2 separate regions of the Homo sapiens genome follow, and region 2 is linked to region 1. Evidence: fine-mapped expression QTL. A gene starts in region 1. The other region holds a variant in brackets. All regions are shown on one strand. Distances are between the middles of the regions.

Region 1 (8,318 bases):
CACAGCGCGGCCAGGCGGCAGCGCCGCCGGCGGGACCGTGAGCAGCAGCGGCTCCGGGTGTGTCCCCACGCCGGGATCGGGGCCTGCCTGGAGCGGGCGGGGCACCGAGGGGCGGCCGGACGCTGACTGCCGCCTCTGCAGGTCCTGGAACGCCTCCACATCGCCAGGAACCGCCACTGCCGGGTTCACCCCGTGGGGCTCCCGCCCAGTCCGGCTCAACTCCCGCCACAGGCAAGACCCCTAGAAGGCGGTGGGGCCACAAGGAGCCTGCGCGGGGCAGGGGCCGAGCTTAGCGCGCCCGGGTCCCTTTGAAGTGAGCGCACTGCACTCTGGCAGTGACTCGGCGGGGCGCGAGGGGCAGGTGTGCCAGGTGCTGCCCCGCCCGCCCCACTGAGCCGCGGACGCTCAGCGCTCCGCACCGCCAGGAGGACGCGGCTGGGCGGCGGCGCGCCCTGCGGGAGCAGCTGGAGCAAATGCATCGGGAGAGGACGGAGCGGCTGCGGGCCCTCGGGGCCAGGTGAGGGGCGGGCAAGGAGGGGTGTGGCGGTGGCAGGAGGCCCCTTTCCCTGGCCTCCGAAATGACAAGCCGCTCTCTCCCCAGGAACACCCAGAACTTCCTGGAACTACTGTGTTCCCCTGGTGCTGAGGATCCCGTGCCTGCGAAGTAGTGCTCGCCCTTCCCAGCACCCTCTGGTCATTGCTGAGTCCTCAAAGGGATGATTAAAGTGATGAGGGTTACGGAAAAAGCAAGAGGGCAACTTGCAGGTCTGATAGTTTCAGAAAGGCCTGAATGCAACCTCAGGGACAGGGAGAGCAGAGGGGCACAGACACACACAGCAGCTTTGCCCCACCAGGAGGCCTGTTATTTCTTCTTCCCTCCCCTAAGCCCACACCTGGCCCACGGTCAGAGGGCCAGGTCTCGGGGATCAAGCAGTGCGAAGGCCCCGTTCTTGCGGAAGAATGACTCAATGCGGCACATCTTGCAGGAGACCAGTTCTTGCTTCACTGGGGGGCCTGGGAAAAGATGTCAGAGGCCAAGCATGGGTTCCTGAGGGAGGGACACGCAGAGCATGGGAGCCCTGTCTGTCTGCACAGCCCTAGGAATCCGTCAGTGGAGTAGCCACTTTGTGGGAAGAAATAGAAAGTGCTTTGGAGGAATGGGAGCTATGGGCAAATACTGGGAGCTGGCTGGATGCCAGGATACAGCAGCCATCTGCCATCATTACCCTAGCTTCAGGATCCTCTACCTGCAGGGAGGGGGGCCACCCTAGCCTGCTTGTCACAGGGACAGACTGTGGAGAGATGAGATTTCCTTCGGCCTCCTGCTCCCCGCTTCTAGGGCTCGCCTCCTGCTTTTGTTAGAAAGTTATTTCCCTGACTTCCCCTTTAGGGGCCTGGGGGAAAGGGATGTTTGGGGGCAAAATCTCAACTGAGTCAATCCCCAACCATCCACCTTTTCTGCAAGACACTCAAGCAGCTGGAGAAGGGTACAGGGCTGAGGAGTCTCACTTGACATTCATGAGCACAGACAGCAATGGGACGTGCAGCAACATCGCCCAGCAGCCCTGCCTGGCACATGCCTGTTCCACACCTTTCCTCTTCATCTCTAGTTACTCCACTGCCTCAGCTCAGCTCCCTCCCCGCTGATGGCCTTGACTCAACCTCACAGAAAAAAGACTCAGCCGAGATGGACAGGCTTCCTGCCAATGACATCCCCTACCCGCTCTGGCTCAGCCCTCCTGCCCCCACTCCCATCAGATTCCAGCAACTTGAGCTCCCTAGGAGATCTCATGGATTTAAATAGCACCTATAGGCCAGCCGGTGGCTCATGCCTGTAATCCCAGAACTTTGGGAGGCCGAGACAGGCAGATTACGAGGTCAGCAGTTCGAGACCAGCCTGGCCAATATGGTGAAACCCTGTCTCTACTAAAAAAACAAAAATTAGCTGGGCGTGGTGACACACGCCTGCAGTCCCAGCTACTCGGGAGGCTGAGGCAGAAGAATCTCTTGAACCTGGGAGGCAGAGGTTGCAGTGAGCCAAGATCGTGCCACTGCATTCCAGCCTGGGTGACAGAGTCAGACTGTTTCAAAAAGAAAAAGAAAAAAAAAAAGCACCTATATTCCAATGACCTCCGAATTTGCATCTTCAGCTCTGACTTCAATCCAGACTTATAGACACAGCCACCCTACAGACACTTCAAGCATAACATAGCCAAACACACATGGCTAAATAGGACCTGTTCATGCACGCTCCAGCCCTGACCTCTCCCAGTCTTCCCTGTCACTGCAGCTTTAGCTAAACAAACACCTGGGTGATTGATCTCTCTTCCCCTTATTCTCACATTCTATCCATGGGTGAGTTCCACCGAGTCTTCCCCCAAAACATCCTGAATTGATTTCAGCTCTATTGCTGATCCCTCAGGCCACTACCACAGGATAACCAAACAGATGCCCAACTCATGTGCCAGATTCTACCATTTCCCCTGAAAAAGCCACTGCCTACATACAGGTCAGGGTGACTTTTTAAAAGGTTCACCAGTGTCACTCTTGAAATCTGCTTAGAACCCTCCATCAGCTTCCCTGCACAACAAATAAAATCCAAACCCATCCTTATCATCTGGCTCTCAGCCTCGGGTCCTCAGAAAGGCCTTTCCTGACAATCCAATAAATAGCAGCACGTGGCCGCTGCCTCCCTGCCCACCGCCACTCCCTAGTTCTGTGGAACGTGTCGACACTTCTTGGCCATCTCCTTGCTCTGTTTATAGTCTGGACCCTTCACCAGGATGCCCACTCCCTAGCACATGGCTAGTGCTCTGTTTTTGAGGTGATTTCCAAGAGGTTGGGCTCACCCAGCTGCCAGCCATACGTGAAGCTGGTGGTGATGGGGAAGAGGTATCGCGTCTCTGGCATGTCCAGTTTTCGAGTGTTGAGGTAGCGGTACCGCCCCTGGAAGTCGTGGGAGATGCCTTCATACAGCAGGGCTCGGGTGATAGGTGGTACCGGGTACATTTCCGACTGAAAAGGCGCCTCTGGGACAGGGCTGGGCACCTTGGAAGGGGCTGACTTGGGGGCGGGTGGGGGTGAGAGTGGGGCTTTGGGGTGCAGGGTGGGCAGTTTGAGGGGCAGGCGGGCTGCAGCCTTAGCCTTCTGCTTGGCCTTCACCATCGACCCATACTTGCGGTACCATTCACAGCGCAACATCTTTTCCCTCAGATATTCCTCCTTCCAGAAGTTCTGCCGTAACGCGTCTATGTTGAGCTGCCGTGACATGGTGGCCAGGGAAGGAGTGGCACCAGGGTGGCCACAGCTGAGGGGTGAGCACAGCAAGCAGAGTGCTTCTGACGGCGAGTGGCTGCCCAGGCACAGTCACCTGGCAACCATGCCTCACCTCACACAGGGCCAGGGTTCTACTTGCCATGCCCCCAGCAGACCCCATGAGCCTGGCTTCCTGAGGCAGCCTGAGGCCAGGGCCCACTGGTTAAGAGCCCTGCTCCCCCCAAAACTCCCGCAGGGCCCTCGCGGGATCTGGCATCACAGACTCCCAGGTTTCGTGTGCTTTCTGCTTCTGTCCTTTGGATCTGGCCCCCTTCCCAGCCCAATGCCGAGCAAGGTGGGGGAAGCAGGAGCTGGGCTCAAGCCTCCTCCCATTCCTCCCCAGACCAGAGCTGGTCTTCTCTGATCCAAGGACCAGTCCTTGAGTTCTGCCTCCCGGCACAATCCTCCTGGGCCACCTCTTCTATGCCTGTCTTTGGCAGCACCTTTTCCATCCTTGCCAACCGAATCTGCCCCATGGCCTCACCCCACACATGTCCTTTCCAGCACCCAACCCATCTGGAGAGAAGCAAGAATATGACTTTAATTTAACATCAACAATGACACTGTGTAACAGCACAGGGAAGAGGTAGTGGAGGGAGATGGTCAGGCTTCCTGTTCCTTAACCAGCAGAGCCCCAGCAACCTAGAAGCGCCTCACCTAGCCTCTTAATGGAGTGGGAAGGAGCAGGGAATTGGAAATCAGAGGCTCAAAAAGTAAAGAAGGCTGATGGCAAGCCTGGGGAGAGGCCTGGAAACGAGGGAAGGGCTGAGGGCTATGAGGAGTCCCCTAGCGCAGGTCTTCGGCAGTGAACATGCCCCTGGCCCTGCGCAGGATGGAGTCCTTGGCGGCGTCATATGGGTGCTCCTTGGAGGGGATCTCCAGGACAGCGGGGATGGACTGCTGGTGGGCGTCCAGGGCATGCCGCACCATCTCTGCGATGTACTGGTTGATGAGGATGATGCCAATGTCATCCCGGTTTAGAAATTGCCTGTGGGGAGAGATGAGAAGGGAGTCCAGGACAGCTCTGGGGGCTGCCGTCTCTCCTACCCAGGCAGCCCTCTCCGAGTTGTTGGGCTGGGCTGTGGAGGGGAATGAGCATGACCCAGAGGGCACAGAGGACAAGGGGAAAGGCTGCCACGCTCAACCCTCTGTCAACCCTACCTAGAATCAATTTCATCCCAAAGCGGAGGGTCACGCTGATTAGGGTTGGCTTCTACAACACTGCCCGGAAGGCTTCCAAGTGAACTGGTAATGAAGATTGATTAGGGTGCACACTGGTGTATTCAATATGCAGTGATGTGTCAGAAAGGGGAAGGATAAGATTATATGTATGCAGATCCCTTTTTATGTGCAGATACTGAAGGCCAGCTGTGATGGCTCACGCCTGTAATCCCAGCACTTTGGGAGGCCGAGGCAGGTGGATTGCTTGAACCCAGGAGTTTGAGACCAGAATGGGCCACATAGTGAGACCCCCATCTCCCTCTCTCTCTCTCTCTCTCTCTATCTATATATACACACACAAAAAAATGGCTGGATGTGGCGGATCTATCTATCTATCTATATATATACACACAAAAAAAAAATGGCTGGATGTGGCGGCATGTGCCAGCTACTTGGGAAGCTGTAGTCCTAGCTATTTAGGAAGCTGAGGTGGGAGAATCACTTGAGCCTGGGAAGTCGAGGCCGCAGTGAGCTGCGATCACGCCACTGCAATCCAGCCTGGGTGACAGGAGTGAGACCCTGTCTCAGAAAAAAAAAAAAAAAAAGACACATTAACTTTTAAAAAGAAAACAAATTATTTAAAAATAGGGCTGATGAGACCACTGAAGGCCTCAAGGTCTATCCTGATGAGGGTGGTGGAGGGGTCAGAGGGAAAGTTTGGCATGAACTAAGATCACAAGCTAGGAAGAGGACACCTTGATGAAGGAATCACACTTTCTGCACAAAAAGAACCTGGCCTTGTGCTCCTTCTCTCCTGTGGTCACCCACCCATTCATTTGTTTATTTTATTTTTATTTTTTTGAGACAGGGTCTCCCTCTGTCACCCAGGCTGGAGTGCAGTGGTGGATCTCGGCTCACTGCAGTCTCCACCTCCCAGGTTCAAACAATTCTCCTTCCTCAGCCTCCTGATTTCTTGGGATTACAGGCACCCGCCACCACGCCTGGCTAATTTTTGTATTTTTAGTAGAAATGGGGTTTCACCATATTGGTCAGGCTAGTCTCAAACTCCCGAGCTCAGGTGATCCACCCGCCTCGGCCTCCAAAACTGTTGGGATTACAGGCGTGAGCCACTGCACCCAGACTCATTCGTTTATTTACTGATTAAAAATTACTTACTGAGCACCCACCCCCTGCCAGTCACTGGGTTAGATTTGATCTCTGAGGTCCCTTTTGGTTGGAAACATAAAAAATTCTTGAAGTAAAATTTGTCCTTCTCCCATGATAACTTGGGTCACTTTACCAGACAGCTTAGAGAATGGCAGATAACAGCCTCCCAGGTCAGGGACTACCTAATACACCAGGCAGCAGGAACCAGTCTCAGCCAGCAGCCCTGGGCTGGACTGTTTGGGGGAAACAGGTGAGTGGTTTATTCCTGAGACTTGGTACAGGGGCCCTGGAGAAGGGGTGAGGAATAAAATAGGAGGCTGGTATCCTTAATTCCAGTCACCAGGACCCCTGGTGGATTAAAAGCATGCCTGCACCCACACTCTGACCTAAGGCAGGCAGTGAGGGCTTGAGTGCAAGGTCTTAGCAGAAGGCTCTCACAGTCCCGACATTTCTGCCTACTGTGCTCAAGACTACAAGGAAATTCCGAGGCCGCCTGAGGAGACCTGCCAAGAGTGTGTACCTGGCTTACCGGAGGCAGAAAGGGTTGAGATTGGGTTCAAATTCTAGCTCTGCCTCTGCCGACTCGTAACTTTAGTGTGTGCCTTACCCTCTCCGAGCTTTAGTTTTCTCACCTGTGAGTAGGACAAAAATCATCCCTGCCTTACGGGACGATGGTGAGCCTCTAAAGGAGGAGAAAGCAGAACAAAGTCCAAGCCCACTGTCTAGGCTGTCACGAGCTCTGTTCCCCTTCTTTCATGACACACGATCATGTGAGGTGGGGGGGCTCGTGGACCTGATACAGCTTCTGTCCCACCGAGCCCCAAACGGGGACTTGGGGCGCGGAGGCCTCCGCTCCGGAAGGGCGGAAGGACTTTCAGGATCGTCCCCTCACCCCCGTCCGGGCAGCCTCCAGCCTCGCCCCGCACTCCACCGAGCAGCAGAAGGGCCCGTTCAGGCCTCGCGCGGTACCGTACCGGAAAGTGTCTTCGATCTCATTGATGGTTGTATCCTTCTCCACCACCAGGAAATTGGGATGGCGGTTCTTGTTAAGCTCCCCTATGCCGCCCAGCAGGAAACCAGTCACCGTGTCCTCGTCTCCGATCACTGCGATGAGCTTACCCCTCCCCGCCATCCCTGCAGCCGGGCAGAGCTCACCCTAGAGCACCAGAAGCCACTGAAACCCCGCCTCCGCCGTACGGCGCCCCGTCGGCCTCAACCCCCACCCTTCGAGCATGCGCAGTCCTCCCAGCCGCATTCCGGGACATGCGCATTAACAGCAACACGGCCTCCATGTGAATACGCCTGCGCCGTAAAGACAGGCCCGAACCAGGGGACTACGATTCCCAGAAGACCGCGCGGCACCACGTCCTTCGCGGGCATTCATTCGTTCATTCACTCGTTCCTTGGTTCATTCGTTCAACAAGCGCTTTGGACCTGACGCTGTTAGACGCCGAGACCCCAGAGAAGAGACGCAGTTACTCATCTCAAGGGCAGGGTCTGGGTCTTTATCGTGTATGTATGTGTGTAACTATGACACATAGTTAACAAGTAACACACGTTTGTTCAGTTAAAGGAATGCAAAAGTTAATGATGATACTGCCTAGTGAGGTGGAAAGTCAAGGGAACAGGCGACTACAAAGCTGTGTGTTAATGGTTAGAATGTGAAAAGTATATGGAAGCACACATCCATGGTAACTAACCCATGGAGAGAGGGGGCGTCCAAAGAACCCTTCCCCAAGAAGCTTGCTTCAGATCTAAGCTGAGACCTGAAGGACCTGCAGGATGAAGGGGATAGAAGTGAGGACAAGACGGTGTTCTAGGCAGAGGAACAGCATGTGCAAAGGCGTACTGACTAGAGAGCGTAGGGCCTTCAAGGAAAGTTAAATAATTGGTAAGGCCAGGCATGGTGGCTCACGCCACACCTGTAATCCCAGCACTTTGGGAGGCTGAGGCAGGTGGATCACCTGAGGTCAGGAGTTTGAGACCAGCCTGGCCAACATGGCGAAAACCCGTCTCTACTAAAAACACAAAAAATTAGCCGGGCGTGGTTGTGGGCGCCTGTAGTCCCAGCTACTCGAGAGGCTGAGGCAGGAGAATTGCTTCAACCCGGGAAGCGGAGGTTGCAGTGAGCCGAGATTGTGCCATTGCACTCCAGCCTGGGTGACAGAGCGAGACTCTGTCTCAAAAAAAAAAAAAAAAAAAAAAAAAAAAAATTAGCCAGGCGTGGTGGTGCACACTTATAGTTCCAGGTACTCGAGAAGCTGAGGCAGCAGGGCTTACTCAGGAGTTCAAGGTTACAGTGAGCTATGATCACGGCACTGCACTTAAACCTGAGCAGCAGAGCGAGACCCTGTCTAAAAAAAAAAAAAAAGGATCTGCAGGCTGGGCGCGGTGGCTCACGCCTGTAATCCCAGCACTTTGGGAGGCTGAGGCGGGTAGATCACCTGAAGTCAGGAGTTTGAGACCAGTCTGGCCAACATGGTGAAATCCCATCTCCACTAAAAATACAAAAAAAATTAGCCCAGTGAGGTGGTGTGTGCCTGTAGTCCCAGCTACTCGGGAGGCTGAGGCAGGACAATTGCTTGAACCCGGGCAAGGGAGGTTGCAGTGAGCTGAGATGGCGCCACTGCACTCCAGCCTAGGTGACAGAGTGAGACTCTGTCTAAAAAAAAAAA
Region 2 (8,318 bases), 27 kb before region 1:
CCTCCCGGTTTCAAGTGATTCTCCTGCCTCAGCCTCCCAAGTAGCTGGGACTACAGGCGTGTGCCACCACGCCCAGCTAATTTTTGTATTTTTAGTAGAGACGGAGTTTCACCGTGTTGGCCAGGATGGTCTCAATCTCTTGACCTCGTGATCCGCCCTCCTCGGCCTCCCAAAGTGCTGGGATTACAGGTGTGTGAGCCACCGCGACCGGCCATGGAGGGATCTTTTTTGGCAGTCCTATTAGCTCTTAAGTTTTCCCTTTTAGGGAGGAAAAAGCTCCGCATGTCCCACGATCCTGTACTTGCCTAATCCTGTCACCCATAGCCGTCAGCAAAGAGTACAAGGCAGATTAATCCCAAGAGAATAGCAGTTAACATCCCGTAGTGCCAAACCCATTCTTAACCGGGAGGGATTTTACCCAGAGGGGCCTCTAACCCTCTAAATATTAGAAGGGACTGTAACCCTCCCCAGTTGGGCCTCTATCCCAAGGTCCATCAAGCATCCTTGCCTTTTATTAAGAGAGGCCTCTAATTCCCCTAAGCTGGGCCTCTAACCCAATCCCATTATTTACCCGGGTATATGCACCCCACTTACCCACAGTCCGCCAGTCAGTGCTGCAGCCTATTTCCTTCTGGTCGGGGGGTTTCTTCAGTATTGTCCCTTCCATGGCTCACCAGAAAGATATTACCAGACCCCACCACTTACCAAAAATTAGCCTTTGGGTCGGGGGTTTCCGCACTATCATCCCTTCAGTGGTCGCCAGAAAGATGTTACAGGAAAGGAGTCCTGATCCAGACCCCAAGAAAGGGTTCTTGGATCTTGCACAAGAAAAAATTCAGGGTGAGTCTATAAAGTGAAAGCAAGTTTATTAGGAAAGTAAAGGAGTAAAAGAATGGCTACTCCATAGACAGAGCAGCCCTGAGGGCTGCTGGTTGCCCATTTTTATGGTTATTTATTGATGATATGCTAAACAAGGGGTGGATTATTCATGATGCCCCCTTCTAGACCACATAGGGTAACTTCCTGACATTGCCATGGCATTTGTAAACTGTCTTGGCACTGATGGGAGTGTAGCAGTGAGGACGACCAGAGGTCACTCTCATTGCCATCTTGGTTTTGGTGGGTTTTGGCTGCAACCTGTTCTATCAGCAAGGTCTTTATGATCTGTATTTTGTGCCGACCTCTTTTGTCATCCTGTGACTTAGAATGCCTAACCATCTGGGAATACAGCCCAGTAGGTCTCAGCCTCATTTTACCTAGCCCCTATTCAAGATGGAGTTGCTTTGGTTCAAACGCCTCTGACACAACCACGTCCTCCCTCTCCCCACCCATGAGAAGTCATTGGCTGCTCAGACCCTGATGGGGCTGGAGGCAGTGAGCCCAGTGATGTGGGTGTGAATTCAAGGCATGGGGTCTTTTGGGGTCAGGCCATGGGGTAGTGGCAGTAGCCACCATGCTAAGTACCAGCTTCTAGAGGTAGATGCCACACCAGCCCCCTTGTTTCCTTTCATCCCACAACAAGCCTATGAGAACAGGACTATTTTTTCAGGTCCATTTTTTTTCAGACGAGTAAACTGAGTCACAGAGAGCTTAAGTGACATGCTAGTTTATGTATCTGTATGAGTTTCCTGGGCTGCTGTAACAAAGTGCATAAGTGCATACTGGGTGTCTTGAACAATGTAAATATATTCTCTCACAGTTCTGGAGGCCAGAAGTGTGAGATCAAGGTGTGGGAGGGTTCCTTCTGGGACTGTGAGGAGGAATCTGCTCCAGCCTCTGCCCTCGCTTCTGGTGATTTGCTAGTGAACTCTGGCATTCCTTGGCTTCTGCAGCACCTGAACCTCTGCCTTCTCTTTTCCATACCATTCTCCCTGTGTGTGTCTGTGTGTGAATTTCCCCTTTTTAGAAGGATATTGCCTGGAACAGTGGCTCACACCTGTAAACCCAGCACTTTGGGAGACCAAGACAGGTGGATCACCTGAGGCCAGGAGTTTGAGACCAGCCTGGCCAACATGGTGAAACCCCATCTCTACTAAAAATATAAAAAATTAGCTGGGCATGGTGGTGCGTGCCTGTAATCCCAGCTACTTGGGAGGCTGAGGCAGGAGAATCGCTTGAACCCAGGAGGTGGAGGTTACAGTGAGCTGAGATCACACCATTGCATTCCAGCCTGGGCAACAAGAGCAAAACTCCATCTCAACCTGCAACCTGCAAACCTGCAACTTGTTTTATCAGCAAGTCTTTTTTATCATCTCAAAAAAAAAAGATACTAGTTATATTGAATTAGGGACCCATCCTGCTCCAGTATGACCTCATCTTAACTAATTACATCTGCAATGACCCTGTTTCCAAATAGTGTAACAGGCTGAGGTGCTGGGGGTGAGGAGTTCAACATATGGATTTGGGGGCGGGGACACACAATTCAACCCATAAACACATCTAATAAGTGGATAGCTGGGATTCTAATGCCATTTCCACCTCTCAGTTGAGCCCTGTCGGCCCCTTCCCCTGTTCATTCTCCCCACCAGGAGGGTCACATCCAGTGCCGCCAGCGAGAATGTGCCAGCCTGTGTCCATACCCAGCCCGGCCCCTCCCAGGCACCTGCTGCCCTGTGTGTGATGGTGAGTCAGTGGGTAGGGCAGAGGCCTGACCATGGTGGGCAACCTGGAGAAAATTGATGGGTGGCCCTGCTCGGGGGCCCATGAAGGCCAGGAGAGGGTGGGGAGGGGCCCCTGAGGAACATCTAAGGCCCCCCTTCCCAACAGGCTGTTTCCTAAACGGGCGGGAGCACCGCAGCGGGGAGCCTGTGGGCTCAGGGGACCCCTGCTCGCACTGCCGCTGTGCTGTGAGTGTGGCTGCCTGGCAGGGAGGGCCTGGCTCCGGGGCCTGCCTCTGGCGTGCTGACCAGGCCCTGTTGGCAGAATGGGAGTGTCCAGTGTGAGCCTCTGCCCTGCCCGCCAGTGCCCTGCAGACACCCAGGCAAGATCCCTGGGCAGTGCTGCCCTGTCTGCGATGGTGAGTGGGGGCCGGGGTCTCTGCGGGAGGGGCAGGCCTTGGCTGCAGAGAGGCTGTAGGTGTGGGGGATTTGCTTCTCTTGGACCTAAGCCCCTGTTACCCTGTTCCCAAAGTGAGTCCTCACCACACCTTCTCATGGCAAACTGGCACCATGCTGGGGCCTGCGCTTCTGTGGCATAGCTGTGGGGGGCAGGGGGCTGCTGGCAGGGCGCCCTGGAGAACTCGGCTGGGTCTTCTTTGTCAGGGTGGGGGTTGGACACCTCAGGGTGACGTGAAGCTTCCCCTCTGCCTCCAGCCCTATACCCCCACGCCCCTGTCATCCCATCCAGGCTGTGAGTACCAGGGACACCAGTATCAGAGCCAGGAGACCTTCAGACTCCAAGAGCGGGGCCTCTGTGTCCGCTGCTCCTGCCAGGTAGGCGGTCCCTCCGCTCACAC[C/G]CAGATCTGCCTCATTCCTTCAGGGTGTCTCACCTGCTTCCCTCCTAGGCTGGCGAGGTCTCCTGTGAGGAGCAGGAGTGCCCAGTCACCCCCTGTGCCCTGCCTGCCTCTGGCCGCCAGCTCTGCCCAGGTGTGTGTGAGAGGGGGAGGAGCAGCTGCTATGGGCGCTGCCTCTGAGGGCTGCAGAAGGAGGGTGCTCCTTCCCAGGACGGGGTACGGGTTGCTAAGTCCACTAGCCATTCTACAGTGTCAGCGGGGATGGCGAAGGTGGGGTCCCTGTGTCCTGGGAAGGACAGGGATGGGTGGGAGGTGTGTAGGCTGCCATGTGACAGCCCCCTTACTACAGCCTGTGAGCTGGATGGAGAGGAGTTTGCTGAGGGAGTCCAGTGGGAGCCTGATGGTCGGCCCTGCACCGCCTGCGTCTGTCAAGATGGGGTACCCAAGTGCGGGGCTGTGCTCTGCCCCCCAGCCCCCTGCCAGCACCCCACCCAGCCCCCTGGTGAGTGCCTGGGCTGATCCTGGCTTTCTTCCCCTGCATTACCCAGCTCACCCTGACCAGCCTGCCCCACCCAGGTGCCTGCTGCCCCAGCTGTGACAGCTGCACCTACCACAGCCAAGTGTATGCCAATGGGCAGAACTTCACGGATGCAGACAGCCCTTGCCATGCCTGCCACTGTCAGGTAACTGCCCAGCCTTGCTGCTGCCCTGCTGAGCCCCTCCTGGGCATGCCCCGATTGCTCTCTCCCCTGCTCTCTCGCAGGATGGAACTGTGACATGCTCCTTGGTTGACTGCCCTCCCACGACCTGTGCCAGGCCCCAGAGTGGACCAGGCCAGTGTTGCCCCAGGTGCCCAGGTATGTGGGCACTCACTGGGCCTGAGGGGATCAGGGCCCCAGAGGCTGCTGTCCCACAGCCCCATGGGCCCAACAGGTACCTTAGAAAGCAATGGCCTTCTGAATTGTTTCAGTCTTGTTTCAGAGCTTAGAACTCTCTGGAACTCACGGGGTGTGGGTGGGAGGGAGAGTAGAGAGATTTGTTTATTCCTGCCTGTACCTACACCACCCTCTCCTCCCATGCTCCATTTCCTCTTCTAGTAACTACTGCCCCCCGCCCCACCACGCTAGGGCCCCCACCCCCCTACCCCCCAGGTAAACCCATGTATCTACCTGGATAACACAGGTTCATGAGCAGGCACTTGAGCCTGCCACGTAGGAGGCCGGGTGCTGGGATGCATGGGACACGTCCCTGCCCGCATAGAGAGTCTGTGTGAGGGCGTGTGTCAAACACAGGTACACACATGTGTAAGCACTCCCCTTCTTCCCCTCAGAGACACACATCTGCCTGCAGGTGAATGACCCCCAATGCGCACGCACACTCGTGTGTGCTCACAACGATACACATGCCTGCACACATGTGCACATGGCCACTTCCTCCTCTTTCCCCTCGAGTCAGCTTCCAAGTGGGCACTTGTGTGGCGGCTCTGGACTCCAGGGCTGGAGGGACTGTCAGGCTTTGCCCTCATACCTGCCCCCACCATCCACTGCCCAGACTGCATCCTGGAGGAAGAGGTGTTTGTGGACGGCGAGAGCTTCTCCCACCCCCGAGACCCCTGCCAGGAGTGCCGATGCCAGGAAGGCCATGCCCACTGCCAGCCTCGCCCCTGCCCCAGGGCCCCCTGTGCCCACCCGCTGCCTGGGACCTGCTGCCCGAACGACTGCAGCGGTGAGGTGGGCGGGTCAGGGCGGCCTTCTGGGATGGGATGGCATGGCCCCCGGAAGGCAGCACGCCCTGGGGCAGTCGCCCTCTCCCAGGCTATAGCCCCTCCCTCCCCCAGGCTGTGCCTTTGGCGGGAAAGAGTACCCCAGCGGAGCGGACTTCCCCCACCCCTCTGACCCCTGCCGTCTGTGTCGCTGTCTGGTGAGTCTGCACCTGGGTGGGAGGCGCCCAGGGGAGTGGAGGCGGGACTTGCAGAGGCCAGGAGAGGCCCGCCCAGGTGGGAGGGGTGGGACCTGGTGGCACTGGGTGGGAGGGGTCTCCTCGGCCTCCCCCAACTAACCCACTGACCCGTGGTGCGTCTGTCGGTCCGTAGAGCGGCAACGTGCAGTGCCTGGCCCGCCGCTGCGTGCCGCTGCCCTGTCCAGAGCCTGTCCTGCTGCCGGGAGAGTGCTGCCCGCAGTGCCCAGGTAGGGGCCGCACCCCTCGGCTGCTCCTCCCTGGGGGTCCCCTCGGAGGCCTGTTCCTGGGCCCCTTTGATGCGCTGTCTCGCCGCAGCCGCCCCAGCCCCCGCCGGCTGCCCACGGCCCGGCGCGGCCCACGCCCGCCACCAGGAGTACTTCTCCCCGCCCGGCGATCCCTGCCGCCGCTGCCTCTGCCTCGACGGCTCCGTGTCCTGCCAGCGGCTGCCCTGCCCGCCCGCGCCCTGCGCGCACCCGCGCCAGGGGCCTTGCTGCCCCTCCTGCGACGGTAACGCCCTGGCGGTGCCCCTCCCGGCCACCCGCGTCCTGCCGCCCCGCCCCGCCCCGGAGCGCCCTGCCCAGTCCCCTTCCTCCAGGCCCGCTCCGCCCACGTCGGGGATCTTGTTAGGAATGTAGTGTCCGGTCAGCATGGCCTGGGAGCCAGCCGGCACGGCCCTCCATCCCCCACGGCCCCCAGCCCCCCACGACACCCATCCTCCACGGACCTCAGCCTCCACGGAGCCCACGGCCTCCCCGCCCTCACGGACCCCCAGCCCCCACGACCTCCAGCCCCCACGGCCCCCACGACACCCGTCCTCCACGCCCCTCAACCCCACGACCACCAAGTCCCCACAGCCCTCTAGTCCCCACGGCCCCCCAGCCCCTGCCCTTCTCCCCAGGCTGCCTGTACCAGGGGAAGGAGTTTGCCAGCGGGGAGCGCTTCCCATCGCCCACTGCTGCCTGCCACCTCTGCCTTTGCTGGGAGGGCAGCGTGAGCTGCGAGCCCAAGGCATGTGCCCCTGCACTGTGCCCCTTCCCTGCCAGGGGCGACTGCTGCCCTGACTGTGATGGTGAGGGTCATGGGATAGGGAGCTGCCGGGGTGGGATGCGGGAGACCAGAGGGCTGGGTCAGAATAATCTTTACTGCCCTAGGGTGGATCTAAAATATTTATTACAGTAAGAAAAAGCCCCGAGGCTGGGAGCCCTAGCTGAAGCCTGTGACCCCGACAATTTGGGAGGCTGAGGCAGGAGGATCACTTGAGCCCAGGAGTTCAAGACCAGCCTGGGCAACATAGAGAGATCTTGTCTCTACACAAAAAATTTAAAATCAGCTGGTCGTGGTGCCTCTTGTAGTTCCATCTACTCCGGAGGCTGAGGTGGGAGGATTGCCCAGGAGTTTGAGGCTACAGTGAACCGTGTTTTCACCACTGCACTCCAGGCTGGGTGACAGAGTGAGACCTTGTCTCAAAAAAAAAAAAAAAAAAAAAAAAAAGCCTGACACTAAAGCCTGGATCTTCTCCTGCCTCTGTTGCTATTTGCCGTGTGGTCTTGGGCAAGTTACATAGCCTCTCTGGGCCTAAATTTGGCTCTTGTAAAAAGACCCAGTCCCCCAGTCCCCCTGTCTTCCCTCACTCTTGTGCGATCTTGGCCATTTTGGCCACTTGCCCTTACCAACTGTAATTTTATTTACTATTTGCCTTCCAATTAACTCACTTATTAATTTAATTTGATTTAGAAAGGAGTTTTATATCACACTGTAAGTGGAAAATTAGACTTGCCAGGACCACATTACCATAAAAATGAATATAATTAAAATTATAATGTTGTTAAATCCTTGTCAGATACTTTTGCCCACCAAGGCTTTGAGCCTGAAATTCACCCTTCTTTTTTAAAAAGGGAGGTGAGCAAATGGCAGAGGTGCCAAGAGCGGGCTGTCACCACCCTGGGACCCCACCCCTTCCTGGATTCATCAGTGGGCTCGGAAGAGCGTGGGAAAGGCGCTACCTTGGGTCCACACCACCTGAGTCAGCTGGGGCTACTCCCAGCTCTCCGGGTTGGGAAACTGGTGCCTCTGGCAATGGCCTGCTGAGTATTTAACCCCAGGGGCAGCAGATTCCTTGTGGGTGTTTTTCTACAAATTAAACAGGAAGGTTTTTTGCAGGATAAAGGGGAGAAAGTTTGCCTTTTGGCCAATCCAAACCCCGCCCCCCTCACGACTGCTTTGCCCCCTGGGCTTGGCCTGTGACCCCCCAGCCCCCACGCTAGATCTTTGAGATCTTGGATGCATAACAGGCCCAAGCTCAGAGCCTATGACCACTGCCCTCTCATCCCTTTCTGTCCCTCCCCTCGGCCTCTCTGTCTCTTCTCTGAAAGGCTGTGAGTACCTGGGGGAGTCCTACCTGAGTAACCAGGAGTTCCCAGACCCCCGAGAACCCTGCAACCTGTGTACCTGTCTTGGAGGCTTCGTGACCTGCGGCCGCCGGCCCTGTGAGCCTCCGGGCTGCAGCCACCCACTCATCCCCTCTGGGCACTGCTGCCCGACCTGCCAGGGTAGAGCCACACCTGCCCTTCCATTCCCCCTGCTGGGGCTCCCGGGGTGCCTTTCTCACCGATTCCACTTTCCTCCCAGCCCTCCCACTGCCTGCCGCTCCACCATACTTTTCTCTCACTCTCCGACTCCCTCACCTTTGATAGAGGTCCCGGGCACGGCTGTGTGTTTGTATGTATGTGTGTGTGTATGTGTGGCTCTGTGTGTGTGTGGCTGTGTATGTGTGTGTGTCTGTATGTGTGTGTGTGTGTCTGGCTGTGTGTGTGTGGCTCTGTGTGTGTGTGGCCGTGTGTATATGTGTGTGTATGTATGTGTTGCTGTATGTGTGTATGTGTGTATCTGTGTGTGGCTGTGTGTGTTG

Alleles and levels. Positions count from the first base shown, and alleles are read on the strand shown. Sizes are in standard deviations (SD) of each study's normalised expression.
In carriers of allele C in region 2, the expression in esophagus mucosa of the gene that starts at base 3,350 in region 1 tends to be higher than with G alone (large effect, 0.78 SD a copy in GTEx).

The links. PIP is the estimated chance that this variant, and not a neighbour inherited with it, causes the effect.
Region 2: its variant is fine-mapped to the expression of SPMIP1 in esophagus mucosa (GTEx, PIP 0.90).

Annotation. Positions count from the first base shown.
Region 1 is chr7:128,861,362-128,869,679 of GRCh38, reverse strand. It overlaps SPMIP1 (sperm microtubule inner protein 1), which reads right to left and starts at 3,350. Exons shown (of 2, transcript NM_001195150.3): 1 at 2,850-3,350; 2 at 1-1,014. The coding sequence starts at 3,270. The coding sequence ends at 905. ATP6V1F (ATPase H+ transporting V1 subunit F) reads right to left here and starts at 6,824. Exons shown (of 2, transcript NM_004231.4): 1 at 6,618-6,824; 2 at 3,833-4,303. The coding sequence starts at 6,775. The coding sequence ends at 4,102. FLNC-AS1 (FLNC antisense RNA 1) reads left to right here and starts at 7,054. Exons shown (of 4, transcript NR_149055.1): 1 at 7,054-7,155. RefSeq lists silencers at 1-242, 373-482 and enhancers at 6,531-7,020, 7,101-7,210.
Region 2 is chr7:128,888,504-128,896,821 of GRCh38, reverse strand. KCP (kielin cysteine rich BMP regulator) reads left to right here. Exons shown (of 40, transcript NM_001366122.1): 9 at 2,529-2,622; 10 at 2,767-2,846; 11 at 2,923-3,016; 12 at 3,346-3,431; 13 at 3,503-3,584; 14 at 3,801-3,953; 15 at 4,028-4,134; 16 at 4,215-4,308; 17 at 5,003-5,176; 18 at 5,289-5,371; 19 at 5,544-5,637; 20 at 5,726-5,917; 21 at 6,309-6,479; 22 at 7,783-7,959. LOC105375497 (a long non-coding RNA gene) reads right to left here and starts at 5,593. Exons shown (of 4, transcript XR_927958.2): 1 at 5,519-5,593; 2 at 706-846. RefSeq lists enhancers at 2,959-4,159, 5,109-5,699, 5,700-6,289, 6,290-6,880. The variant C/G (reference allele first, on the strand shown) is at 3,455.